Homo sapiens: one gene and its partners. The protein of the gene in region 1 interacts with the protein of each later gene in a biochemical or structural test. Each region holds a gene or a part of one and is shown in the gene's direction. Other genes may lie near its edges. The genes, in order: TRIM2, TMEM106B, UBE2F and CPT1A.

Region 1 (7,027 bases):
CCTGTGGTGCGCCAGATTGACAAGCAGTTTCTGATTTGCAGTATATGCCTGGAACGGTACAAGAATCCCAAGGTTCTCCCCTGTCTGCACACTTTCTGCGAGAGGTAAGCCTCCTTTGTGCTTGGAGAAGGGAGTTTCGCAGGCTGACCTCCTACAACCTACTGCAGGATTCTTTCCCAGAATTCTACAGTTACCTTTGAGAGAAAACTAATCTCTTGTGCTTCTGCCAGACATTGAAAAACAGAATCATGAGTTGCAAATAATTTACTTTATTTCAAACCATTATAAGCAAGAGAAAGCAATCCAGTAACTACTGATTCGTTTACACAAGAGATGGAGCATTAAATAAGAATGTTAAGTTGAAAAATCTTTTAAAACTTCCCTTTGTTCTTTGTGAAACAATTTTTGTCCACAGCAGATCCCTACAGAGGGTCTTTCAGAGTCAATTAAAAAAATCTATCATTTCCTCCCATATAACAAATCAGGTAAAACATCTGCATACATGAGTTGTTACTTCAAAAGGTATAGCTTCTTTTTCAAAGATTCTTCAGACACATACTAATGTCACATTTGAATGCTATGATGTTTTAGATAAAGAAAAAATATATATTAAATAAATTACCTGACTATGTAATTTGCTGTATGTGAAAACAGACTTCCTTATTTATCTTCTTCATAGAGTATTTGTTTTTGGAGAGGGGCGTTAATCAGTTATCAAAATATACTTTTACCCCATTGTTTAACTTACCATGTAAGCAATTAAGCATAAGTTTGTTAGTAATTAGTTTATCTTACTTATAAATATTTCCCTAGTAAAGTTATGTATCTTTCTTAAAAATAAATATGGTAATTGTGTTTTATAGCATTTTGTTAAGTACATTTTTATCATTATTTAATATACATACTTAAAATGCTTTACTTCCTGTGATAGAACTGGAAATCAGTATTTCAAATGGCTTCAAATCTATGCTGATTACACAAATATCTGATTTAACATGTCTTTATTATCTGATTGACCATTTTTTGAGTTGATTTACTTTGCAAGGTTCAATTGCAAAAGAATAACCATATCCTTCATGGTGGTGATGGATAGAAGGAGAAGGTAGATTTGTTACTAGTAGTTGTGGCTTTTTTGTTTGTTTTGGGTTGTTGTGGGGTTTTGTGTGTGTGCGTGTGCTTGTGTATATGGGTTTTGGTTTGTTTTAGTGGTGGTATATAGGGCACTTTTTATTTTATTCATTTTATACTTTGGCTTAAGTGCTTGGTAATTCATATTACAAAATAATTAGAGTGTGATTCCTCCATCCCCTTAATGGGTGCACCTAAAACATGAATACCAGCTAATAGTCCATGTGTCCCTGGGCACACATGGGAAGATCGTTACCTGATGTGCAGCAGTCGGCATAGCTTGGCTGATACTCTCTATAGAAGTGCATTCAGAGCCACTCAGTCTGAACTTGGCAGAATTGCCCCATATCCCAGTATTCAGTGTCCAGCCTATCTATTGTTTGGGTCCTACTTCCTCACTCTGACAGGTGAGAAGCAACACTCTGGCTGCCCTAGGTCTGCCCCTGCTATCTTCTTTGGGGATCTAGCCCAACCCACTTCCACTCCCCACCCAATAGCTGGTGGTAGAGATTTGTGAGATTCTGCTACAGCAAGTCCTTACACAATGCTCTGTGTTAAAATTGTTCCAGCCTCATGCATGTTGAGATGATTTCCTCTTCTTTTTTTATTTTATTTTTAATTTTGAGATGGAGTCGCACTCTGTTGCCCAGGCTGGAGTGCAGTGGCGCAAACTCAGCTCACTGCAAGCTCTGCCTCCCGGATTCACGCCATTCTCCTGCCTCAGCCTCCTGAGTAGCTAGGACTACAGGTGCCTGCCACCACGCCCAGCTAATTTTTTGTATTTTTAGTAGAGACGAGGTTTCACTGTGTTAGCCAGAATGGTCTTGATCTCCTGACCTCATGATCTGCCCAGCTCGGCCTCCCAAAGTGCTGGGATTACAGGCGTGAGCCACTGCGCCTGGCCAGATTTCCTCTTCTTTTATTTTTTATTTTATTAATTATTTATTAATTTATTTATTTTGAGACAGGATCTCACTCTGTCACCCAGTCTAGAGTGCAGTGGCACAATCACAGTTCACTGCAGCCTCAATTTCCCAGGCTCCAGAGATCTTCCCACCTCAACTTCTTGAGTAGTTGGGACCACAGGTGCACACCACCATGCCTGACTATAGAGACAGGGTTTCTCCATGTTGCCCAGGCTGGTCTCAAACTCCTGAGCGCAAGCAATCCAACTACCTTGGCCTCCCAAAGTGTTGGGCTTACAGGCGTGAGCCACTGCGTCCAGCCGAGAAGATTTCTGTTTGAAGGTGTTGAAGGTGCTGGCAACTTTCCTTAAAATGGGGTTTTTTGTTTGTTTGTTTGTTTGTTTGTTTTTGAGACGGAGTCTTGCTCTGTCACCAGGCTGGAGTGCAGTGGCGCTATCTCGGCTCACCGCAACTTCCGCCTCCTGGGTTAAGTGATTCTCCTGCCTCAGCCTCCCGAGTAGCTGGGACTACAGGCATGCGCCACTATGCCCAGCTAATTTTTGTATTTTTAGTAGAGACGGGGTTTCGCCATGTTGGCCAGGATGGTCTCGATCTCTTGACCTCGTGATCTGCCCATGTCGGCCTCCCAAAGAGCAGGGATTACAGGCATGAGTCACTGCGCCCGGTGGGGAAATTTTTGTTTATGCAGAGACAAAACTTTACAGCTTGTCTCACTGTCAGGAGAGTGAGCTCTAGGACCCCCATGTTCAGCCTCTGCTGGACATTCATACTGGCTACTCAGTGAGCACCTTACAGTCACTCTTTTTTTTTTTTTTTTTTTTTTTGAGACAGAGTCTCGCTCTGCCGCCCGGGCTGGAGTGCCGTGGCGCGATCTCGGCTCACTGCAAGCTCCACCTCCCGGGTTCACGCCATTCTCCTGCCTCAGCCTCCCGAGTAGCTGGGACTACAGGCGCCCGCCACCACGCCCGGCTAATTTTTTTTTTTTTTTTTTTTTTTTGTATTTTTAGTAGAAACGGGGTTTCACCGTGTTAGCCAGGATGGTCTCGATCTCCTGCCCTCGTGATCCACCCGCCTTGGCCTCCCAGAGTGCTGGCATTACAGGCGTGAGCCACCACGCCCAGCCCTTACAGTCACTCTTATCCCACATCTTCCAAAACAGCATCAAAAGGCTTGAAGGAGAGCAAAGCCAGACATAGCTGCTGGCCCCTTGGAACTCACAGCCTAGTGGAGGAGCCAGTCACTAACCCCCTAATTGCTCAGACTAATGTGAAATTAAACCAGTGACAAGTGCTGTACACCAGAAGTATACAGGAAACAATATAATAGAGGAATTTGCCCTAATCTGGGAAGGCTTCCTTGCAGAAGTGATGATTACGCAGAAACCCCAATGATGAGTAAAAATTAACTAAACAAAGGGGAGTGAATAGAATTTCAGGTATGTGCAAAGGTGCTATAGTGGGAGGTTGCTATAGTGAGTGAGAGGTGCTACAGTGAGAGGGTTATTCAACACTGAGGAAGAACTTAAATAAGTCCACTGTGGCTGGTATGCAGCAAATGAGGGGAAGAGACAGAAAGTATGTAGGTGCTAGGCCATATGAGATGTGTAATCCATGTTGCCATATATGGATTTTTGTCTTTGTTGTAAGAGCAGTGGAAGTGGAAACCATGGCATGGCTTTCATCTCAGATGGTGTGGGAGGGAGATTTAAATGGCTCTCTTTGAGTTTTGAGAAGGTCACTCTGGTTGCAATGTGGATAATTGTTAGAGGGTACAAGGATGGTTATATAGCAGGGCATGAAGAGAACTGGAGAGGTTAGAAAGATATGTAGGCATTTGGACATGCTTTGGTGATGGGTTGGATATGGAAAATGAAGGACAGTAAGGGAGTTACTGTTTTAAGAATGACTCCTAGTTTCTGGTTTGTTTAAATAAATGGATGGAGGTGCTATTCATCAGGAATGGGAGAGGATACAGTCTGGGGTTCAGATAATGGGTTTGGTTTTGTTCATGTTGAGTTTTAGGACCTGCAAGACATCTAAGAAAAGATGTCAACAGGTCAGTTAATGAGGCTCAAAGGAGATGTCTGTGGGAAGAAATATAATTTTGGGAGCCTGATGCTTGTAGCCACACCTGTGATATGAATATAATATTCCAGAAAGAGAAGAGGTCTCATGATGAATGGAACCTTGATTAACTCAAAACTGTATTGACTCAGAAAAGACAGAGCAGACAGGAGAACCATGTGAGTGTGGTGTCATAAAGTCAAGGGAAGAGAAATTTTTCAATAAAAAGGAAGGTGAGCAGAGCAATAATCAAGCTTAATGATACTTCCCAGAAGTCTAGTAAGATAAAATTGAAAAACATCTGCTGGATTCAGACGTCGTTAATGACCTTAGCAAAAGCTGTTTCATGTCTGGTATTGGTTCAGGGCTAGCTACCTCTGTGACATAGACAAGATCAGTGAATGTCTCTGATGTCAGGTCTATTCATCTGCAAAATAAGGGGAATGGGGCTAGGTTGGTGTGTTTTGAATTGTTTGGCTAGGTACTGGAAAAAATTGTATAGTCTAATTATTGAGAGCTTAGATTATGGTGCCAAACTGCCTGTGTTTGAATTTGTACTTTGTACTCTGCTCCTGACCAGCTAAGTATCTTGGACAAGTACGCTGGCCTGTCTCTGTCTGTTGCATCACGTGTCTCAAGGAATCATAACAGTACCTATCTCATAGGCTCATTGGAAGTACTTTGAATTCAATGAGCAGCATATGTGTGAGTCATTATTAGTGACACACTTCTTTAACTAAATGAGTTAAGTTGATACCTGTTGAGTAGAGACAAGGAGAAGAGATGGTGTGGCTCTGACTCTGGGTGTCCCATTCTTGCTTCAAGCAAATATTTCCACTTTGATGTGTTTTTTATATCTCATTATGATTTTGTACGTAAGAAGAATTTTATTGCTAACAAAAATATTTGATGTGTTTCTTTCAATTTCAAAGTCCACACATTTATGAGCCCACTGCTAGATATTGTGGGCCAGTGCTTCTCAAACTTTAACATGTATGCAAATCACATGGGGAGCTGACTCAGCAGGTGTTCGATAGGGTCTAAGATTCTGCATTTCTACCAAATGCACCCCCCAGGGAGGCTGACGCTGCTCATCCATGGACCACACTTTGTGTGCCAAGGCACTAGAAAACACTACAAAAGTCAATGACATTTTTTATTTCCTTGAGCATAATCATTTGCCTCATTAGTGTGAGTACAGCTTACCTGTTGGTTTCTGAAATATTATTTTCCTAGTAAAGGAGACTGGGATGGGAGTTTCTGCCAAATACCTTGTGTAGTCACTGAGAACATGTATGGTACCTGTGAGAAGTGGAGGTTCTGCACTGTGCTAAGCTCTCCACCTCTGCTTCTGCAACAGGTGCCTGCAGAACTACATTCCTGCCCACAGTTTAACCCTCTCCTGCCCAGTGTGCCGCCAGACCTCCATCCTGCCCGAGAAAGGGGTGGCCGCGCTCCAGAACAATTTCTTCATCACAAACCTGATGGACGTGCTGCAGCGAACTCCAGGCAGCAACGCTGAGGAGTCTTCCATCCTGGAGACAGTCACTGCTGTGGCTGCGGGAAAGCCTCTCTCTTGCCCAAACCACGATGGGAATGTAAGTGGCTGGGATGGCAGATACTGCCCGGGAGCATGACTACTGTGGCCTTGGGGAGGCTTTGGGTACATCAGAGATTACAGATTGAAACAGAACTCCATGTGGAAAAATCAGTAATTAAAAAAGATTTTTACCAGCCCTCAGACTACCTGCTCACTTTCTTTGACCAGAACTATTTAAATAACGAAATCAATCTCCACTGTGTCTCCTTCACACATATTGTTGGTATCCCCAGGACAGCAAACCAGTAGCTATTTGCAAGCTGACCTACATAAACATCTGTGTAATAAATTTATGGATACGGATTTAACAATGGATAAGTTCTGTAAGTTGAGAATGATTATTAAAATGTTAATTAGAGTTCTTTATTTTTCTTGGGAGGGAAATTTTCTCATGCTACATTAGACCTTATTCCTTATTAATAGATAGAATTTGAAGCTATGTGAATCCCTGATAGTAGATTATAGATTATGAATTCCAAACATATTTCTTGCTACTAGTGAGTACAATAACTGTTAGAAGCTCAGGAGGACCTGTGGGTACCATCAAGTAACTGATTCACAATAGCTATGTAACCTGAAGAGGCAGCATTGTGTAGCGTCTAAGGACATTGGCTTTGGAGTCAGGCTGCCTGATTCAAATCCTGCTCTTAAACTTATTCCCTGTGCCAGCTTTGGTAAGTTTATTAAACTCTCTGCGTCTCATTTCTTTATCAGTTAAAAAAAAGTAATAATAGTATTTACCATATAGAATATTGGAAGAATTAAATGTTCAAGTCATGTAAATCATATAGTAGGATCTTGATAAATGTCAGCTTTAACATTTTTTCATTAATTACTTTATATTCATCTCATTTGTATATTGGTCACTTCAAAAGTATTTGAAACTGCTTAAAACAAAAGGCCCAGGTATAACAAAACCACTAAGACAAGCAAGCAATCATTAGAGCAAAGCAATTCTTATTAGCCACACTACTGTTTGTTTACCTCATCTCCCAGCATTCTCTCTGCACACTGTGCTGGAGCCTCACCAGCCTCCTAGAACCTGCCAAATGGTTTCCCTCCTCGGGGCCTGGCTGTTCTGTTCCTTCTGCCTGGGTTGCTCTTTGTTTCCTCTTTATGTGGCGAGCTTATTCTCTTCCTTGAAGTCTCACTGCAAATTTCTCCTGCACACAGCAGTCTTCTCCACCTGTACCGTCTAACACAGGTTGCCTCTTACAGCTGGTTACCCTCCATCATGTCCCTGCTTTCTTTCCTCCCTGGTGCTCACTGTGGTCTGCTTGCCATCAGCTGTGTATTTGTGTACTTATTAG
Region 2 (7,062 bases), on another chromosome or scaffold:
CGGTCATTTCTGTGCCTCAGGAGAATCCTGGGCAGCCTGCCACCCTGCCTCCAGCCTTCACAGAGCTGCTGCAGTACACTGGTTAAAGGCCTAGAATCTGCAAAGAAATTTCTTCAGCATTCATGCCCTACCCCATGCCTTTAACATATGACATTTGAGCACTTAATGAAGACCTTTAGGAGAGAATTGGAGAGTGAGTGCACACTCGTTCTATCACTGGAACGACATGAGATTGTAATCTATCATCCTGGTCCACACACAGGGGTGTCATTCGGCAGGTCTCCCTTCGGCCCTGTTTATGGTGCATTCCTCCTTCTCCCACTGTTTTGTAGGTGATTAAAGCAACTCTAATTCTATTCTCTCTTAGGAAGCTCTCCTTATCTTTTGGATTTAAGTGTACTTAAATTTGCGTCCTCATTTCTTTGATAAGTTTTTTAAAAATGTTTAAAAAAAAAAAAACCTTCTCTAGCTTGTGTTTGTTGTGAAGAAACAGTCTTTTATAACATAAATCCTAATTGGACTCTGTGTTTTCCTTATTTTATATTCGGAACACCTCCTCAAGGATTTCTGGACCCAATTCTCCTCTTTTCAGCAGCAGTGATGATCACTTAGCAAAAGAGTGAAAATACCCTCTTTTCCCCCCCTAACCAGTTAACTTTACTCACCGTCATCACTTATCTTTGTGTAGTAAAAGTTGAGGACAGAATTCACTCTTCCAAATTTAATACAGATATTCATGCCACAGTGGTTAATAGCTGTAGCTTTGCAGTCAAAATATCCGAGTTCTAGTTGCTAGCTGTGTGGTCATGTGCAAGTCATAATACCTAGGATCCTCTATTTCCACTGTTTGAAATAAGATATGGGATAATAACAGAACCTAATCCATAGCATTTCTATAAAAATTAGATGATATAAACTACTTTACACAATGCCTGGCACAACAAATTCATTCATTGGCCAAGTGTTATTGAACTCCTAAAATTATTCTTACTAGAAATTATGATTATGACAAAAACCCTACAAAAGATGACTTGAATATTTGGGAAAGAAAGTTTTAACACATGGGAAAGATTAGCTCCATGCAGGTGTGAAGCAAGATGAATGAGACAGAGGAAATATAGAAGATCCTGCCTAAGAAGGAGTACAGAGACATAACCAAGAGTTTCAGATAGGTAAGTTATTTGCAGAAATTAATAAAGACCTCTGCTTTTAAAATAATTGGAATGACAAAGATGTGTCAATAGAGTCAGGAGTTTACTGCCTGTGAATGTAAGTCAGGTGGCACAGCGGGAAATGGTAGTTTTGCTAATGGTAGTTTTGCTATGTATCTGGGGCACTATCTCTGAAAATCAGCCAGACAAACTTCAATCTTTTCAATCCCTGGTTTCCAATGTAACCTATCCAGGTTTCTAACATAATCTGACCAGCATATCAGTGGAAGGGGGTGAGCTGAGAGAGACTTATATATTAACATTTGACAAATTATATGTTTCAAAATAATTATGTTCCTTTTCTGCTTATAATTTTTAACAGCTAATTTCTAGAAAAGTAATTTTTGCAAAATTTTTAGTTATGGCTGACTGCTATTAGGATTTGGGTGATTTACCATTAAAAGAGATAAAAGAGAATTGAAATGAGAGATAAGGCTGTTTTCAAGATTTAGTACAACCTAGAGAAATCCCTTAGCTTCAGCATCATACTAAATATAACCAGAAATCATTAAGAAAGAATGTTCTTCTATTCAAACTTATCCCAGACTGTTAAAATTACTGGCCTTTATATCTGATAGCACCTAGACCACTACTGAACTCGGAACTCAAGAAATCACTGTTAATCAAATAATTGGAAGCTTTTCAGAAAATTTTCCTTTCAAAATGTGCTTCAATGAAAAATAAGGCATAGGAACAAATGTACCAAACATTCAATATCTGTCTTTAAAGTACTTCCTTGTTATATGGATGATAAATTTGTAATCATAATATCTAATATTTACTGATTGCTCTGCAGGTATCAGCTCCCATCCATAACCCTTTGAGACAGACATTATTACTATCTTCATTTTGCAGATAATAAAAATTAGGTATAAAGAAGGCTAAGTATTTTGCCCACTCTTACAGAGATTTTGTATATCTCTGTCAGGCTGGGCTCATTTTCAGGCCATATGGCTCCCAAGGCTGTGTTCCCAACCCTGCTACTGAACTGCTTCTTACAGCAACATTCTCCCAGGAAGACTTATTCCTATGTGAATTCCAGGAATTTGGATAAGGAACTGTGCTATATGGCCAGCACGTTTTAAGTTAAATGATGAGGTTGAGAAAATACTAAATACTCCCTTAAGAATTAAAGAAAAAAGTAACTTTTTCACTTAAGAATAATATATATTACATTATAGAACCATTTGCCTATTTAACAATAATAAAGAAAAAACATCCATGCTCTCAAACTACAGGCAACTGTTTATATTTTGTATATTTCTTTCCATTTCAAGGCAGATATGTAATATATTTATATCTATATGTTATCTATATGTGAATATAGTTTACATCCTATTACAATACCTCATATCCTATACTTTGCATCCTGATTTTAATTTTATATCACTCCGCGTATAACAGCCTTATAAGATGGTTTTTACTGGCTTTATAAAAACTCAATAGATGGCTATTCCATAATTTTAAAAACTCAGTAATTCCAAGGGGAACATCATATCTCCACAGGTGGACTGTCAATAATTTTGAGAAAAATTTTCCCCCATGATTCTGATTTGTTTTAACCAACCTATTAATTTTGAAATTTCAAACAGTGTTAATGGAAGACACCCTGACCCTTCCCTTTGGAAAATATGGGCTAAATAAAAGCGGTTGAAAAATAATGATTTTATCAATGTCCCTTGTTGGACATTCAGTTTATTTAAATGGATACACCTCATACCCAAATCTTTTTAGAGTTCTCATTAGGTTTAGGATACTTCTGAAAGGGTGGAATTGCTGGACCAAACGATGTGAACATTTTAATAGTCTTGATACATACTGACTGTCTGCCAGAAAACTTAGGAGTTTTAAATCTCCGACAACATTGTATGAGAAAGCTCATTATCTCACATATGGATCTACAGTAATCCTCTTAAATTGTATATCGTTCTGACTTGTATTTCCTACTTTTACATAGCTTCATTTCCCAATTCCTGTTAGAATTCCCTGATTCTAACAGGATCACACTGATCCTGTTAGAAGAGAGAAATATATGACTCTCACTTCCTTGCTCCTGTGACTGTAAGAATGCCTACCATTCATTAAACGTTAAACTCTCCGCAGGAATGAGACTAGAGTGCCCTTAATATTATTACCGGCATCTCATTGATCCCTCAAAACGACTCCTTGTCGTTGTTCTTATCTTCTAAGTGAAATGACCTAGACGTTGGGGGAGGGCAGCCCCAACCCACAGCGAAGAGCTTAAGTACTGGGATCCGAGACGGGATTTCACACACCTGTAACTAGCACCAGAGTTAAGGGGTGGGGAGGGGCAGCGTGGGCAAAGCGAAACGAAACCGAGCAAAAACAAAAACTACGGCCTTGCCGCTTGCTGTCTCCTTCTAGTTGGCCAGTTTCTAAATTAAAATAGAGGTAGCTTTGCTGCTGTCAGCGGCGTGTGTACGGACCAGTTTATTCCATTCCTAAGGACCAGACTGTCAGCGACAACTCGCATTGCGTGAGCGAGGAGGCTGCTCAGCTGAAAGCTGAGGCAGATGGTGCACATTTATACCCTTTGCAAAAGGAAATGGTCTGATATGGGAAATAGGAGGAGCGACTGTTCCTAGGTAATTCGTGGCTACAGTGGACACTTTGAAGTCTGGGGGACGCGAAGGTAATGAAACCTGAAGAGCGCACAATCTCACACGATCGACGCCTCTGGGCTCAAACAGGAGGAAGAAGGACGCATGCGTCACGCGCACGCCAGGGGTGTCCCTCCGGGAGCGCTCTGCGCAGGCGCGGACGCAGGTTACAGCAGCGCTTGGCCTCTGCTGATGCCGTCGTTATCCTACCCCTCCCCCGTCCCAGCTCTACGGCGGCCGCGCGCTCCAGGCCGGTCGCTCCACCCCCCGGCTCCCGGGACTGTGGACTCCACGACCCTGTCCTCGGCCCTGTCCGCGCCGAAGCAGCCCGGGACTGCGCAGCGCCCCGCGTGCCGGTGAGCGACCCCGGACGTGCAGTCCCCAGGTCCCCTTCCGGAGCGAGGCTGAGCGGCTGCGCCGCGGCTTGAGCCGGGCCTGACAAGGAGGGGAGGCCGCTGGGGTGCTGGGCCAGCCGCAGGTACGGCGGCGGTCAGGGCTGGTGATCGAGTTGCTGTGTCGCCTCTAATGAGGCCCAGCCAGGGAACACTCGGCTTCGGCCCAAGCCCTACCTCTGGGTTGCCTCTAGGCCCTCACACCTTGAGCGCCAGGTGGCCCTCTTCCTTTTGCTGTTGATGAATGTTCTTGCCGTGGTGCCGGGATCTTATTTTGCAGCTTTACAGAGTAGGCTTTGTGCTAGGTGTTGTTTATGGAGCTTTTCAAAGGCGCTTGTTTCCTTAGTTCTCAAGCCCTTTTAGAACTAAAACCAGTGTCTACACAGAAGATCAGGAGCCATTTAAATTGGAGTGCTGTGATATATTTTTTCTCTCCAAACTGAGTCTGATATCCATGTTGACTTTCAGTAAACTAAGGAACCGCTATAATAAATAACACTGAGCCCACAGAGGTTGCAGAAGAGGGTCTAGCACCCCTTTTTTAAACCATTGAGTCTCCCAAGAATAAAAGTGGTTACACTTGTCAGTTCTCTAAGGAAAATCTAGTAGAGAAGGCAAGGGATTCCCAGTTTCTCACAGAGTCTGGCACTTGTCCAAACACCTACCCTAAAGCAGAATCGATCATGGCAGCTATTAGATTAGGACAGAAAACAGGCTCAAACGGAGAGCCACTTGAGTCTGCCTTTCTGTGTCTTTTTTCTCAACGCGCTCCAGTTAAGATGCAGCTTACAGCCTGGCTGTGTTGACTGAGATCCCAGAAAGAGTGCCCTTAAGGCCTTGCTGATAAGGCCCAATGATCCCAATTCATCTAGTGTTCCGCATAGACCCCAAGGTTACAGTGTGTGGGGACAGTGATGTTAAGTCTTCCCTATCCTACCTGTGGCTGACAGGTGTTGATTAAGACAATGATTTTTTAGAAGTCATAAATCATTTGTATTTTTGATGTGGGCAGTGATTTTTATAAATACATAGTTTTTTTTTTTTGAAAGAGTGAAAATCTCATTTTACATTTGTTTGCATACCATTTGTATAGTTTTTTAAATTCTGTTTATTTGAGTGACAGCAACAAGTGGATGGCATGCGAATTTTATTTATTTTTTTATCTTTGTATTTATTTTGTGTATATTCATGGAGTACAAGTGCCATTTGCTACATTGATACACAACATCCTGGTGAAGTCAGAGCCCTTAGTGCATCCAGCACTGGAGCAACACACATTGTACCCACCAAGCAGGCTCCTATCAGGCATGCCAGTTCTAGAAAGTAAAATTTTCTTCATACTCTAGGATGAACTGACTTACTTGGAATGTCTGTTTTGTTTAATCAAATAAGTGAGAATTTTTGAAAGAAATACTATCTGTCTGAATGTATGTAATCTATTTTTAGGAACCGCTAAAAGACATATCAAATTTAGAAGGAGTATAATTATGTTATTTTTCAGTTTTACTTTTTCACTTTATTTTTTCTCAGGATATAAGCAGGAAAATACCAGCAGGGTGTATTATATGACTGTTAAGTTCTTTTCAGCTTTAAAAGGGTATGACCTTAAGTATAAAGTTACTTCATTATCTACCTGCAGAAGTTATTTTTGTGTAGGCACTAGTACTAATTATTTATTTCTACTTAGATTTTTACATTTGTATTGTTATTTTGATACTCTTATCCTAAAATTTTTGAAGTTAGTGTTCTAAATTTTGCTGCTTTGTATTGGTAACTTATATTTAATATTTTGGAACATTGGCTTCATAATTTTAACTGTCAACTGTTGAATGAAAAAAAAACTGTGATTTTGGAATTTTGGGGCTTTTTATTGTTGTTGCGAGTGTTTAAATGTTTAAAGCAAGAAATTTAAGGATGGAAAAGAGTGGTGATTGTATTTATCACAAAGGTGCGTGAATTTTCAGAGGCTGAAACGTACTACTTTGAAGTTACTTGGTGATATACATCAAATACCTAGTTATCGTCTACCCAAAGCAATTTTTGCCTTTAGTGCTAACTAGTTAAAAGGTAGAATGTATTTTTATTTTATTTTAAGAAAAATGAAACCTGCATGTTTCTTTTCAGAGAACCTGCAGGTGTAGACTTTTGTCAAATGTTAATGTTTGAAAGCCCATTCTCATCATAAGCATGATAGGACATCATTTCACATTATTTGTTTAAAAAAACACTTCTGGACTCTAGTAAATGGCTCCTTTGTTTCAGACATTATTTTGATTGGATATAATCCTAATCCAAAAGGTATAATCCAAAAGGTAGTTTGAACATTCTCTTAATGTTTGTTCTGTAAACCAAAAATAAAATTCTGAGCCCCCCAACTAAGTGGAACCCGCTTCTCTGTCAAGGGCATTCCAAAGTAAACCTAAAAAGGTAGTTCAGGCCATGATGAAAAGGTGGGTGGAGGGGATTGAACATGCCCCGTTGTACCTTCCTCTCTTTGGAATTCAGGCACAACTGACCAGCATCAATTAAAACAGAGATTTGAAGACTAACAAGAGTCTCTTTGTAGCAATAAGATATCAAATCCCAACCTGACTCTAATATAGAATCACTCGACAGATAGCAGGCCCTGAGAGAAATTGAAATATCTTACCCCAAAATATATTTCTTTGAAATGGCCTTGCAAAGCTGTCTCTCGTGGGGAAGATCCACATTCTGTACAGAATCCCCTTTCCTTTCCAGATCTTTTCCTAATTCAGCAGCGATTTAACCAAGAGCCTGGAATATTTTAAGGAGTAATAAGAGACATTTACAAACTATTCTCTCTGAAGCCTGCTACCT
Region 3 (7,027 bases), on another chromosome or scaffold:
GCACAGAGGTTGAGGTGGAGGGGTAAGGCTTAAATTTTCCTGTCCTTGTCTCAGACCTGCTATTCCCCAGCCCCCCTCTCCCCTCCCCACTACTAGTCCCTGTGGGGAAACATCATTCCCATGCAGCCTTTCTGAAGTTCTGTGTGCTGTGTTTGACCTTTAGCTCTGTAACGATGATCTTACATTTTTCTATTTCCACTGCTGTCTCTTTTGGAAGTTTCATAAATGATGGGCTGGTCAGATTTCATCAGGAATAAAACCCCATGTTCTCAAACCCAGAAGTACTGAGAGCAGCTGGTGGCTCTGCATGAACCATGTTCCTACCCTGCTTCTGTAGGGTCCTTTCCTCTCCTTTCCCCAGCGTTTCCTTCCTGTCCCCCCTGCCTTTTTTTTGATACAGAGTCTCACTCTGTTGCCCAGGCTAGCACGATTTCAGCTCACCACAACCTCTGCCTGCGGGTTCAAGTGATTGTCCTGCCTCAACCTCCTGAGGAGCTGGGATTACACGCATGTACCACCACGCCCAGCTAATTTTGTATTTTTAGTAGAGACGGAGTTTCTCCATGTTGGTCAGGCTGGTCTCAAACTCTCGACCTCAGGTGATCTGCCCGCCACGGCCTCCCAAAGTGCTGGGGAGCCACTGTGCTCAGCCTTTTTTTTTTTTTTTTTTTAATGAGATGGAGTTTCACTCTTGTCACCCAGGCTGGAGTGCAATGGCATGATCTCAGCTCACCGCAACCTCTGCCACCTGGATTCAAGTAATTCTCCTGCCTCAGCCTCCGGAGTAGCTGGGATTACAGGTGCCTGCCACCACACCCGGCTAATTTTTGTAGTTTTAGTAGAGACGGGGTTTCACCATGTTGGCCGGGTTGGTCTCGAACTCCTGACCTCAGGTGATCCGCTGCCTTGGCCTCCCATAGTACTGGGATTCCAGCCATGAGCCACTGAACCCAGCCTCCTGTTCCCTTCTCTTGTTTTCTTCCTGTCTGCCTCTCATTCAGGCAAGTGTGGGGCAACTTCTAGGGGCCAGCATATGTCACTGGTGTCCCCAGCAGGGCGTCTCCAGGGGATCATTAGGGTGTAGTACTTGGCTGAACACAAAAGTAGTTGCATTTGCCATATTTATAATGAATCATTGCTTACAGACTCTCCTGAGCATCTCTTTCCCACTGGGCTGTGAGCCCTGAGGGAGTGCCAGCTGTCTTGCCCACACTATTTCCGGTGTGTAGCTTGTGCCTGCCATGCTAGGCAAAAACACAAATTGTTCAGTGGTTGCCCCTCTCTCTGCCCCCTACAAACTTAGTGTAGAAAAGAGATGAAATAATTCAGTCAGCATAGGAAAATCACATAGGCACAGGCATTCAGGATAGAGTGTGAGGGCACACTCTGAGGGCACCAGGTGGGTCAGTGAGAACGGATACAGCAGCCAGTGCGGAGCCTAGGGATGGGCTGGGGCTTCTCAGGGTGCATCTGCTTCACTGCCATGACTGACTTGACACAATTTCTGTACTTCATAAGGACTTGTCTCCTAAGAGTTACAGTTCCTGCAGTGAAGGTCTGTTATTAAGACTGTGAATGTGGAAAACCTTTAATAAAGTCGATCGTTATTTTAGAATAAACTTTTAAAAGAAAAATGTCCATTTGGAATCCCCCACCCCACCCAATATCCCAGCAGCCAAAATTCAAATTTTCTTTGTGTTTTTGTTCCTTTGCCTCTGCAGTTTAACTCCCAGCCTAAAGCCTGCCTTGTAATTTGTCAGTTTAGAAACTGTCCAAACGGATGTAGTGACATTTAGTGGGCTCCTACATTGTGCCAGGCTCCGTGTCAGACACTGGAGGGCCAAGGATGGGAACTTGGTGGCCTTTTAAGAATTTCAGTCTCTGGGGAGACAGACGCTGACATGACAATGAGGAGCCCGGGTGGTGATGTGGGTGACGGCTATTCCTCAGGCTGGTGGGGACGCCCAGAGGAGGAGCACGTGACATGGCCTGGGGATGCCTTGGAGGAGGAGAGAGCCTTAGCCCAGACCCTAGCTGGCCTGTGGTGTCACACAGCCCTCAGGTGCGTCGGTCAGGACTGGTTGGAGGAAGCTGTGTGCTGTAGCAGGAGAAAGGATTACAGCTCTTTGTTCTTGGCTCTGGTTTCCTCCTGGAAGTGAAGACACCACGTCTCCTCACATGTTGTTGGCCAAATCAGATAACATGACCATGGCCAGCCCGGAGGGACTAAGGAAGGCCAGTCCTGCCATGGGCCCTGGAGGAGGAGAGCCAGAGACACTTGTTGAACAGCAGTGATGACGACCACAAGTGACACCTGAACTCCCACTCTCCCTTCTTCTTCATATGAAATTATCAGACTTTGTAGGGAATTGAGACAACACGGCCATGCAAAAATAGAATAATAATAACCTGTAATCTCTCCATCCAGAGATGATCACCCTGACTCTCTAATGTCTGTTGCAGACAGTATAAATTCCACATACCAATGGGGCGATGCTACACATAGTCTGGTAACTTGGGGCTTTCCCGTCATAATATGATGGACGTACACATTCATGTCAGTCAATGCACAATTGCATCATTATTAATAAGAGCACTTCCTTGTATGATGTATCATTTAAACCAGTCCTTTATCATTGGTCACTGGTTGACCAACCTTTTGCAGTATAAAGCAGACTTTCTGTAAAGGGCTAAGCAATAAATATTTTAGGCTCTGTGGACCACATAGTCTCTGTCCCATATTCTTTTTTGTTTTTTCAATAACCTTTTAGAAATGTAAAAACCAGTCTTTGACCATGTGAAAACAGTCCCAGCCTCGATTTGGTCTGTAGGCTGTGGTCTGCTGCCCCAGAATAAATAGGGCTGTGAGGTAAGTCTGGGGCATGCATCTTATGTCTGTCTGCCTCTTTCCTCTGGATCAGTTCCTAGACATGGCATTATGGGTATTGAGTAATTGATGCTCCATTTTAAGGTTCTGGATAAATCCTATTAAATTACCTTGCAGAGAGGAATGCCAGTTGGCATCCTCACCATCCATGTTTGAAAATTCCGTTTCCCTAAGCAATTACCAAGGTAGAATATTTGCCTTTTTGTTGTTGTTGTTGCCATTTTGGGAGGAAATGGTATCTCGTTTAATATCCGATTGTCATTTCTTTTTCTTTTCTTTTCTTTTCTTTTTTTTTTTGGAGACAGAGTCTTGCTCTGTCCCCCAGGCTGGAGTCCGGTGGCACAGTCTCAGCTCACTGTAACCTCCACCTCCTGGATTCAAGCATTATATTTTCATTTCTTAAGTCGGATGCTGAATAGTATTTCCCACTAATAAGCTGTTTATATTTTTTATGAGCTGCTATTATGTCCTTTGCCCATGTTTCCATTGGGGATATTTGTTTTTCTTCTAGATTTACTAGAGTCCTTACAAGCAAAGTATGTGAAACTTTTTTCTTCAGTTTTTTAGCTATGCTGTAAATACTTTCTTTGTTTTGCATTTGCCGTCTTTAGTCGTTGTTCTATACAAGTTTGGTTTTTTTGTTTCACTGCTTGAGTTTTGTATGTTATGATATGCTTAAAGCAGCCTTCAGACCCCAAGATGGTCATCTACATTTTCTTCTAGTCCTATAATTCTCTTTTATGTTTAATTTTAATGCATTTGGAACACTGTGTTTTTCCAAATGGGTAGCCAGTGACCCACCAAATAACCCAGTTCTCTGTTGGTTTGAGAGGCCAGATTTGTCATACATTAGGCTTCTGGCAGGGTGAGTGATGGTGGCCGTGCCAAGCACTGAGGGGGAATGTGGGAGGGCTGGGCATTGCTTGTTGGTCTAGCTGTGGGCCACTGGGGTTGGGGGGAAGGGGCTACAGGCCTAATTCAGTTTGGAAAGTATGTATGTCAGAAGCCAGGTGCAGAGTTTTGCCCTCTGTTCTGGAACCACAGTTAAGAGGACCGTTGACAAAAGGAGGTATCTGTGTTAACATCAAATTATGGAAGGTGTGAAGGGGACAGGAGGAAGGGCGAATACCCGCAAGCCTTTGGGAGATGTGGTAGCACCAGGCTGCATGGTCATGTGTGAGGGCCTCCGCAGAAGGGGTACCTGCTTGGGAGGGAGAGTGAGTTTGCCAATTTTCTAGGTTCCTACAAAAACTGAGAGTTGGTGACTTGGCCTAGCACTAGCCTGCCACCATCCAGTGACCCAGAAGGGGGCACAGAGCCCTGCCCCTCATGGCAGTCTGACCTTCCCTCTGCAGCCCAAATGCCTCAGTAGAAGGGAAAGATGCAGTTCCTCCTTTCTATTAAATACATTCCCATTTATTTGTAGAAAAGCACAATGTGAAATTTATTTAAACTCATTCTGAACCTAAATTCTTTGTCCTCAGACACATGGATTTGCACAGTCAGTTTAATCAGTTTTTTGGAATCTACTGATTTTGTGGTATTTTGAAATTAGGAAGAATGCTCATTATAGTGTCGAAAAAGTATTTTTGCTTTATACAAATAAATAAAAAGATGAAACTATAAAAGTTTACTAGAAAGTTAAAGAGGATATTTGGATGGTGAAGTATTTTCTAAGTATGGCATCAAAGATAAAAATTTGATTACAAAAATAAACTCCTCAGAAAGCATCATAAATAAAAGTTAATAGCAGATGATACACAGGGAAAATGTTACCCATTTCACAAAGGTTTGATTCCTTTTTGAGATGACCTTTCTGATGAGATCCTGTGATTTGACACTTCTGCATATTAACCAAGGGGACCTTTCTGTGGGAGGTCCTGGAGAAGAGGCCCTCTCCCTTACTGCAGGTTGTGGTGGGGTTGGCGGGCGGGGTGTCACATCTTCTGAAGGACATGAGCAGTGTATCAGAAGCTAGGGTTTATGACCAGCAGATCCTCTTCCTGGGCTTCATCCTGAGGAAACATTTCACCCAGGATGAACCCTGCATTGATAGAGCAGGGTTGGGAGAAGAGGAAGCAACCTGAGGGCCCAGAGGTAGGGAAGTGCCTATTAAACTCGGGCAGGTGTACCATGGAATGCAGGATGCCATCTGAAACGATGGCAGAAATAACTAAAACATATGTAGCACAGCTTTCTTCTATAAAGAAAAATGAGTATGCTGCATGCACACTATGTGTGTGGCCTAGAAAAGAGGCATAAACACATGTACATCAGGTGTCACATAATTTCTGGGTAGCATTTTGATGGAGTGTATATATTCTTACATAAAAAACAAAAGTGAAAGACAGCAGAATTTATTAGATATTTACGTATGTTTCTTTTCATTTGTGTTGTCCTTTTCTCTCTGAGTATGGATTGCCTTTGTAACAGAGAAATCTGTTTGGTTTGGTTTGGTTTGGTTTTCTGGTTTGGAGGCAGGGACTCGCTCTGTCACCCAGGCTGGAGTACAATGGTGCGATCATAGCTCACTGCAGCCTACAACTTCTGAGCTCAAGTGATTTTCCCACCTCAGCCTCCTGAGTAGCTGGGACTACAAGCAGGAGCTACCATGCCCAGCTCTTTTTTTTTCCCTGGAGAGACAGGGTCTTACTATATTGCCCTGGCTAATCTTAAACCCTTGGCCTCAAGCAATCCTCCCACCTCGACCTCCCAAAGTGCTGAGATTTTTTTCTCCTGGGTATCTATCATTAATTATATTTTCTTCTTTTAGGTGGCCTCCCAAAGTGAGCCACCATGCCCAAACTAGAAAAATCTTAAAAGAACTTTATCCAAACATGCCAAGTCATAAATGATGTTGATATACTTTATCCCCACAAATTCATTTTCATTCTCTTTCTCTCCTTTAAATGTAAAGTGGACTAGGGCTTTCATCTAGGAAAACGTATGTGACAATAGCATCTTCAGAAAAATCCAGCAAATGGAACAGGCTGTTCTTGCAAGGAGCAGTAACTTTCAGCCATAGTAACTTGTATTGCAAAGGAATCTGGGGCTTCTGATTGGATTTGGACCCAGAGGATGTAGAACTATTCCTTAGAGTGCACTGTGGATACCTTCTGCAGTCCCAAACCCAGGGGGTGTGGGAGGTGACAGAGGTCCAGTCACCAGCACTGTCAGCCGGCAGGACACATGGGGCTTGTAGAGAGGTGCTCAGAAGCCCACGGGTAGACTTTGCTGCTGAGACTAGCCCTTGTGGATGCAGCGCATCAACACATGCCTCATGGGTGAGGTGAGCCAGTATTCAGGGTTGAACACGTGTTCAGCGAGTCAAACTGCACACTGAGTCAGCCATGAAACAAGCGTCTAGATAGGGGATGTGGTAAGGCTCTGGCCTGGAGATGTGATTTGCAGAGACTGTCGGCGTGATCTCTCTCATTGTCTCTGTGTTGCAGCCTCCCAAAGTGAAATGCCTGACCAAGATCTGGCACCCCAACATCACAGAGACAGGGGAAATATGTCTGAGGTGAGTTTATTGTCTTTTCTTTCTTCTACATTCGTGAGTGTCATGTGCAAGCGTTGGGCTTTTAAACATGTTGTCTCCTCTGAAAAGATTTTGAGGCATGGCCAAGATTAGGAAGGGCTTGAACTCAGCTGAAGTAGCTGCGGTTGCCTGCCTGCTCCCAAACCCTACCCTACCTTCTGCCTCCAGACGAGTGTCTTCTCTTGGCCCTCTGGGGGCCACAGCCCTACTAAGTTCTTAGTGCAGCCTCCTTGCCTGCCCAGGATGGACCCTTGGAGTCCCTTGCCTTGTTCCCCTCCTATTTACATGAGAGACCACATTCCCTCCATGTGGCTGATTTTAGCTAAGATGAGAAAATATGATTAATGATAGATACCCAGGAGAAAAAATGTAGATGGCAGGCTTGAGACGACCTTGGGCACTTGTATTTAAGCTGCCCTCTCTCTACCAAAATGGTCCTGATAGATGTCAGGGCACTTAGGGCAGGCAGCCTCTCGGAGCTTCATGCCTGCTGTGACTTGTGTCCCTGATCCCTGGCATGGGCAGAACGTCAGGCATCAGTGATTTCTCCTCCTAAGGCTGCTGGAAAAGTTGTGTAGGTGGATTGGTTGGTTTTTAAA
Region 4 (7,027 bases), on another chromosome or scaffold:
CTGCTCTGAACATTCTGTACAAGTTTTTGTGTGAGCATCTATTCATTTCATTTCAGTGAGTATGTACCTAGGAGTGGAACTGCTGGGTCATACAGGTATATTTCACTTTTTAAGGAAGGGCAAGAATTCTTGTCTGTTTTGTTCACAAAACACAGTTCTTGTCTGCGCTGTCACCAGGGCTTGGATGCCGCTGATGCTACAGTGGTTCCAACCCATAGTAGGTGCCCAATAAACACCGTTGAATAAATTGGCTTAGGTTTACTTGCCAGTGAAAGGAGAGCGTCACAAACTTGAGCAAGCCCTTAGCCCTCGTCTGTCCTCTCTCTGTCACATCTGACATGGAGATCAGATCCACCTCATTAGGTGCTGAGCATACTGGAAGCCTTAACAGCTGTGATTCAAACTTTGTAACATCTCTGCAAAGAACAACCCTCTCTTCATGTTGGAGGTTAATGTGTTTTATGTACCACTGTTAGTTTTAATAATTTTGTTCTATTTTTGACAGTACGTCATGTCCATTGACAGCCTCCAGCTGGGCTATGCGGAGGATGGGCACTGCAAAGGCGACATCAATCCGAACATTCCGTACCCCACCAGGCTGCAGTGGGACATCCCGGGGGAAGTAAGTCCGGATTATCCAACCATTGTTACTTACCTGGGATGGGAAACACATTTGAAGTCTTACAGATGAATTTTCCAACCGTAGTTCCTGCCCTATCATGAGCTCAGTTGAAGACCACTGAGGCTGAAAGTTGTTTGCTCAGGGAGTTCCGTGGGTCTGCGGGGCTGTCACAGCTCCTGTTGCCTCGGAAGCCTCGGTAAATATTTCTTCTTCTGTTTGAAGCTCCTGGCTAAGACTGTCAGCGCTATTTCCAGCTTAAACTTAACTAGACATCTACAGAATGCTCATAATCAAAAACTAAAAGCCAAAATCACATAGGTTAGAGCTGAAAGCCTCTAAATTGCTCATTTATACTTCTCAAAGTTTAATTCATTTTGGCACCTCTTAAACATGCTCAGAGGCAGCCCATTCACAGGAGCCCTTTTGGGAAGGAATTTTAGGGTTGCAAATACCAAATCCTAGTTCACTTAATCCAAGGAGAAATTCCCTGGAGTCCAAGATACCATTTTCTTTTTCTTTTTTTTTTTTTTTTTTGAGATGTAGTCTCGCACTGTCACCCAGGCTGGAGTGCAATGGCGCGATCTCAGCTCACTGCAACCTCTGCCTCCCAGGTTCAAACGATTCTCCTGCTTCAGCCTCCCAAGTAGCTAGGATTACAGGTGCCTGCCACCATGGTGAAACCCCGTCTCTACTAAAAATACAAAAATTAGCCGGGCATAGTGGTAAGTGCCTGTAGTCCCAGCTACTCCGGAGGCTGAGGCAGGAGAATGGCTTGAACCAGGGAGGCAGAAGGTGCAGTGAGCAGCGATGGTGCCACTGCACTCCAGCCTGGGCAACAGAGGGACACCCTATCTCAAATAAATAAAAATTAATAATAAAAAGTAAAAAAATGTGTTTCTTGATTGCCACTGTGTGATGACGTCATCATAAGATGACGTGTGACTATTTGAAACACCCTTTGGGGTCTCACTGGAAGCCAGGGTGCCCCCGTCCCCTACCCATGTTCCTGTTAGCGTCAGAACATATCTGTACGGGTCTGCAGCAACCTCAATTCTTGCCTTCTCAGAACGAATTTGACTGTGGGGCAGAAGGCAGGAGAGACCAAGTTTAAAAGCGGGAAAGTTTATTTTAAAAACTTTAGGAACGAAAGGAAGGAAAGTACATTTGGAAGAGGGCCAAGCGGCCAACTTGGGAGATTAAGTGCGAGGTTTGACCTCTTGACTTGAGGTTTTATACATTGGCATGCGTCCAGGGTCTTGTGTTACTTCTCCCAATTCCTCCCTTGTTGTGGGCTGTCCGCATGCACAGTGGCTCCAGCGCTTGGGAAGGGAGCATGCGCAGTATGTTTACTGGAGTTGTGCGCATGCTCACTTGAGGTGTTCTGCCCTTGCCTGTCTAGCACTGCTGGAGGAAGCTCATAGTCCAGTTAGACGCCGCCATTTTGCCTCTCAGTGCGCATGCTTCAGCCCACTCGCCCAACGCTTGAGATCTTATCGGGAAGCTGCTGGTCACCAGCTCCATTTCTATCTACTGAGAGACTGCCTTTCCCTGGCACCGGCTGTGACCTATTATTATTTTAGAGAGACAGTTCACAACCACCTGACCATCACTGATGGTCGCGTGATATTCCCAGTGTGTGTCGGAGGAAGCCCTCTCCTGGCCTGCTCATGTCAGACCCGCTACCTGCTATAACATTGCAGCTGCTCCTCCGGGGTCAGGGAGCCATGCCCCTAACTTACTAGGGCTTCTGGGTCAGGAAAACGTTTGTGTACTTCCCAGTACCGAGTTTATAGCTGCACTAAAAACCAGCCTCCAATTTCCTTCTGGGTGTGCGTCAGTACTTTTCTCCCCTCGTTCCGTAAAACCTTTTTCTTCTTTCTCTCAAGTGTCAAGAGGTTATAGAGACCTCCCTGAACACCGCAAATCTTCTGGCAAACGACGTGGATTTCCATTCCTTCCCATTCGTAGCCTTTGGTAAAGGAATCATCAAGAAATGTCGCACGAGCCCAGACGCCTTTGTGCAGCTGGCCCTCCAGCTGGCGCACTACAAGGTAAGAACTGACCGCCTAGGGTTTTGTCGTGAGCACTTTGGGGGTTCCTACACCTGCCCAAGACTGTTCACCCAGTGGGGAGGGAAGGCCCGAAACCCGGCATAGGAGAAGCACAGCTCCCCCCGACCCCGGTCTCCGGGGGCCGGGTGGCGTTGGGTGTTTCACCACGCACGCGGGCAAAGTTCGCAAATCCCCCTCCAGCAGGCGTAGATTCCCAGCTGACACGGGAGAGGGAGAGTCTGGGGGATGAGGACAAAGTGAGATCTCATCACTCTACAGAGGGAGAGTTAAGCCCCATAATAAGCCCCGAATCCTAGCATTTGCTAAAGTGGAAATAGTGTGGGCAGGTAGGGGAATAGTCAGTTACGTATTCGTCTGGCGCTCGGTAAATCTGCACTTCACACAGGTCAGGTGAACATGGTCCACGTTTCATCTGTCGCTCTCTGCTTGGGAACAAAATAAAAAGCTTCTTGCATGACTTAGCTTTCAGCTTAATCCTTTCCTTTTGGCAGAGTAAATCTTCCTTTCACCATACTAAATTAAATTTTGGTATTTTCATACAGTGGAATATTATATAGCTATTAAGTGATGTCTTTGGGCAAATTACTTAACGTCTCTGGCCTTTGACATCTCCTTCCATAAAAGGAGAAACTCCAGCCACTTGGAGGTGCCATGGGCTGGATCCCCTGTATACACATGGCATTTCCATCTCCCTTTTCTGAGCACTGGCCATATTTTGGCTTGCACCTGGCAACCCCTGTTGGAGGAGCAGCCTGCACCCCTAGCAGGGACATAAATGGGTCTTCTTGTCCATTGGAGGGAGCATTCCATCCCAGACAGGGGGCCCTTGGTTTCTGGGGGCAGCACAAGTCATCGTGGCATTGGCTTGAGATATTCCCAACTTTTTTTTTGAGACAGAATCTCACTCTTGTTACCCAGGCTGGAGTGTAATGGCATGATCTCGGCTCACTGCAACCTCCACCTCCCGGGTTCAAGCAGTTCTCCTGCCTCAGCCTCCCGAGTAGCTGGGATTACAGGTGTGCGCCCCCATGCCCAGCTAATTTTTTGTATTTTTAGTAGAGATGGGGTTTCACCATGTTGAGCAGGCTGGTCTCGAGCTCCTGGCTTCAGGTGATCCACCCGCCTTGGCCTCCCAAAGTGCTGGGATTATAGGCGTGAGCCACCGTGCCCAGCCTTGTATTAAAACTTGAGTGCTGTACACATATGCAGCGTGTGGCACTGCCCCCCCAACCTTGGTAACGATTGTGCCATTGTTGAATTTTGCTTGGTGCATCATGTACCTCATGCTTCACTGTCTCTGCACCTGGGAGGCACTCTTGTTATCCCATTTTTAAAAATTTACAAGTCCCCATTATGCCTCAGAAAATCTTGTTTTCCCATTTTACAGGTGAGGAAACAGGTGCAGAGAGGCCAGGTGCTTGCCAGGGTGGCACTAGGCAGGGATAAAGCGGGCCAGCGGCTCCAGAGTCTATGCTCTCTCCACCTAAAGTTAAGAAAACAGTTACAGAGAAGTAAGAGGCAGTGTTAATATCAGATGAACTGGAATGAATGGGCCAAAATCGTATTTAAAATGCATGCTAATACAGTCTGTAAAGACTGTCACAGTTATGAAGCCTTGCTTTCCCAAGTAACATGCTCACTATGCGTAAACCAGAAGCAGCTGGGCAGAGTACCAGGAGCACAGTGACAAGCTCCTGTCTGTGACAGATCATTGACTAAAGATCATGTGATTAAAAGGTGACATGGAATAGAGGCATCGCATCTCAGAATCAGTGAGCTGGATTTTGAGAATTGATGAGCAGATTTTGCCCGTAAACGTGCAGTATGAGGGCATGCAAGCAGTTGATACCTTACCTACAGAAAGGATGTTATTTTATCTTTTTAAATTTTTTTCTTTTTTAAAAGAATTCCCTGCAAGTAAGCGCAGGACTTAGGAGTTTAGTAAGGAAATGCCACGCTCCAGTTTAGTACATTTTGAAACATGCTGAAATGACTATTCTGCAAGCAGTACAAATTGGTGACGTTGACTCAAGGTAGAAAACCTGAAAAGGCCTCTGGTCCAGGGACCAAAGTGAGAGGTTGTCAGGGAGCCACCCTTGTGACTCCAAAGAGCTTGCAGCTCAGAGACTCCACAAAGGAAGCCACCCCATCTGCTCCCCAGAACCCACGTGGCCCAGGTGTGGGAATGAGCTGCAAGGGGCACCAGCCACTGTGCCATGTACTTGGCAGGAGCGAGCGAAACTTCAGGACGGCCCCGAGGAAGGCATCTCTTCATCTCTGCCCTCCACACTCGGAGGTGAAGCATCTTGCCTGAGGGCTCCAGCTCGTACGCAGCAGGACTGAGATCGGAAGCAGGCAGGCTTGTTCGAGAACCTGTGGCTCTCATCACTGTGCTGCAGCTAAACGCAGAAAAAGGAAGCACAGACCAGCTTCCCGCATGAATGGAAGTGCAGAGACCCTCCATAAAATCTTAGCAACTAGAATCCAGCACTGTAGGAAAAGAATAGTCACCCACAGTGGCGTACACCAGCGGTGAGAGGCTGGTTTTGTGTCAGTAAATCCAGTCATACACTAAACCATACTGTTGGGTCAGAGAAGAGCCTAGATAGTGAGTTTCACAGATCCTAAGAAGACGTTTCACGTTTAACATCCATTCCTGATAAGAGCTCTTGGTCAAGGGGCTTAGTAATAGGGCTCTTTCCTTAACAGGATAAGTGGCATCGTGTATTAATAGCTAGCTACTGCTTCAAAGTAAAAGTGTGGGAGGCAGTCCCCTTAAAACAAGAAAGATGAGGATGCCTCTAGCAGATGACAGGGTAATTGGGCAGGAAGAACATTTATGTCTGTTCAGGAGATGGAACAGCAGAAAGGCTTTGACGATTAAGAGGCACACCCAGTGAGCCGGCCCAGCGCAGAGTTGCACAAAGACCACCAGCTTTCTTGCACAAGGATGATGGCCAAGTGGGAAATATAATAAGAGAATGTAATAGAAACGAGAATCTGGGGCCCCACCTTCCAGGCATACGTGTATAAAGCAGACTGGACTCTGGGAAGAAGGCCGAGGAGCACTCGCCCCCCAACTCCTCCCCAGGGAGAGGGAGAAAAAGCCATGATTTTGGATGAAAAAAAACTTCAGAACCATAGAGGAAGGGATGTTCCCAGTTCACACTGTTTTTTTTTTTTTGAGACGGAGCCTTACTCTGTTGCCCAGGCTGGAGTGCAGTGGCACGATCTCGGCTCACTGCAGCCTCGGCTGCTCACTCGGCTCCCAGGTTCAAGTGATTCTCCTGCCTCAGCCCCTCGAGTAGCTGAAACTACAGGTGCCTGCCACCACACCTGGCTAATTTTTGTATCTTTAGTAGAGACGGAGTTTCACCACGTTGGCCAGGCTGGTCTCGAGCTCCTGACCTCAAGTGATCCGCCTGCCTCAGCCTCCCAAAGTGCTGGGATTACAAGCCTGAGCCACCATGCCTGGCTTAGTTCACACATTTAATATGAACACAGTGAGAGGTCAGGCAGGGGCTTCAGGAGAGGAGCTTGCCCAGTTGATCTTGAGGCTTGAAAAGGCTAACATTTGAGAGTCACCTGTAACATTTTTGAAAAGAAAAGCAATCAGGCGGAGGCAGGACACGGGGAGGTGGACATGTACTTTTTCAAATCCTAAAACTTAAAGTGTAGGAGTTAGAAGACTGTTGTGATTAAAGTGGTCTCAGTCCTATAATCCTAGCACTTTGGGTGGCTGAGGCAGGTGGATCACTTGAGTCCAGGAGTTTGAGACCAGACTGGGCAATATGGGGAGACTCTATCTGTACAAAAAATACAAAAAAAAAAAAAAAAAAATTAGCCCAGCATGGTGGCGCATGCCTGTAGTCCAAGGTACTCCGGAGGCTAAGGTGGGAGGATCACTTGAGCCCCGGAGGTGGAGGCTGCAGTGAGCCGTGATCGTGCCACTGCACTACAGCCTGGATGACAGTGAGACCCTATCTTTAAAAAAATTGTTTTTAATAAAAATAAAATGCTGCAGTCCTCGTACAAAAGCAGGCCTGGGAAATAACGTGTAATGGAGGGAGCATTTGACATCAGTAGGGGACGGGGAGCTGGTGAGTAAATGGAGCTGGGAAATCTGGCTAAGTGGTTGCCTTTGGAAAAAAATAATCCAAGAGAAATAAGGAGTCAGACCAGAAACTGTGGTTCACAAGAGAGGAAAAATACGGTCAATGAGTGTAGGTAATAAGCTTAATCTTACCAAGAATCTAACAAGTACAACTTAAACAAGACTAGATTTTTGCCTACGGGGTTGGTAAAGGCTTTTTTTCATGTTGGTGAGGGTGGA

Evidence for each region.
Region 2: the proteins of TRIM2 (region 1) and TMEM106B form a complex in vitro, tested with the Homo sapiens proteins (one study listed by BioGRID).
Region 3: the proteins of TRIM2 (region 1) and UBE2F form a complex in vitro, tested with the Homo sapiens proteins (one study listed by BioGRID).
Region 4: the proteins of TRIM2 (region 1) and CPT1A form a complex in vitro, tested with the Homo sapiens proteins (one study listed by BioGRID).

Annotation. Positions count from the first base shown.
Region 1 is NC_000004.12:153,270,416-153,277,442, forward strand, and holds part of TRIM2 (tripartite motif-containing protein 2), read left to right. Parts: coding exon 1-104; intron 105-5,477; coding exon 5,478-5,715; coding exon of another isoform or gene 5,716-5,754; exon of another isoform or gene 5,755-5,853; intron 5,854-7,027. UniProt on the Homo sapiens protein: UBE2D1-dependent E3 ubiquitin-protein ligase that mediates the ubiquitination of NEFL and of phosphorylated BCL2L11. Plays a neuroprotective function. May play a role in neuronal rapid ischemic tolerance.
Region 2 is NC_000007.14:12,207,238-12,214,299, forward strand, and holds the start of TMEM106B (transmembrane protein 106B), read left to right. Parts: upstream 1-4,056; 5' UTR 4,057-4,188; intron 4,189-6,963; exon of another isoform or gene 6,964-7,062. UniProt on the Homo sapiens protein: In neurons, involved in the transport of late endosomes/lysosomes. May be involved in dendrite morphogenesis and maintenance by regulating lysosomal trafficking.
Region 3 is NC_000002.12:238,019,003-238,026,029, forward strand, and holds part of UBE2F (NEDD8-conjugating enzyme UBE2F), read left to right. Parts: intron 1-6,339; coding exon 6,340-6,410; intron 6,411-7,027. UniProt on the Homo sapiens protein: Accepts the ubiquitin-like protein NEDD8 from the UBA3-NAE1 E1 complex and catalyzes its covalent attachment to other proteins. Together with the E3 ubiquitin ligase RNF7/RBX2, specifically neddylates cullin-5 (CUL5).
Region 4 is NC_000011.10:68,768,911-68,775,937, reverse strand, and holds part of CPT1A (carnitine O-palmitoyltransferase 1, liver isoform), read left to right. Parts: intron 1-505; coding exon 506-622; intron 623-2,508; coding exon 2,509-2,673; intron 2,674-7,027. UniProt on the Homo sapiens protein: Catalyzes the transfer of the acyl group of long-chain fatty acid-CoA conjugates onto carnitine, an essential step for the mitochondrial uptake of long-chain fatty acids and their subsequent beta-oxidation in the mitochondrion.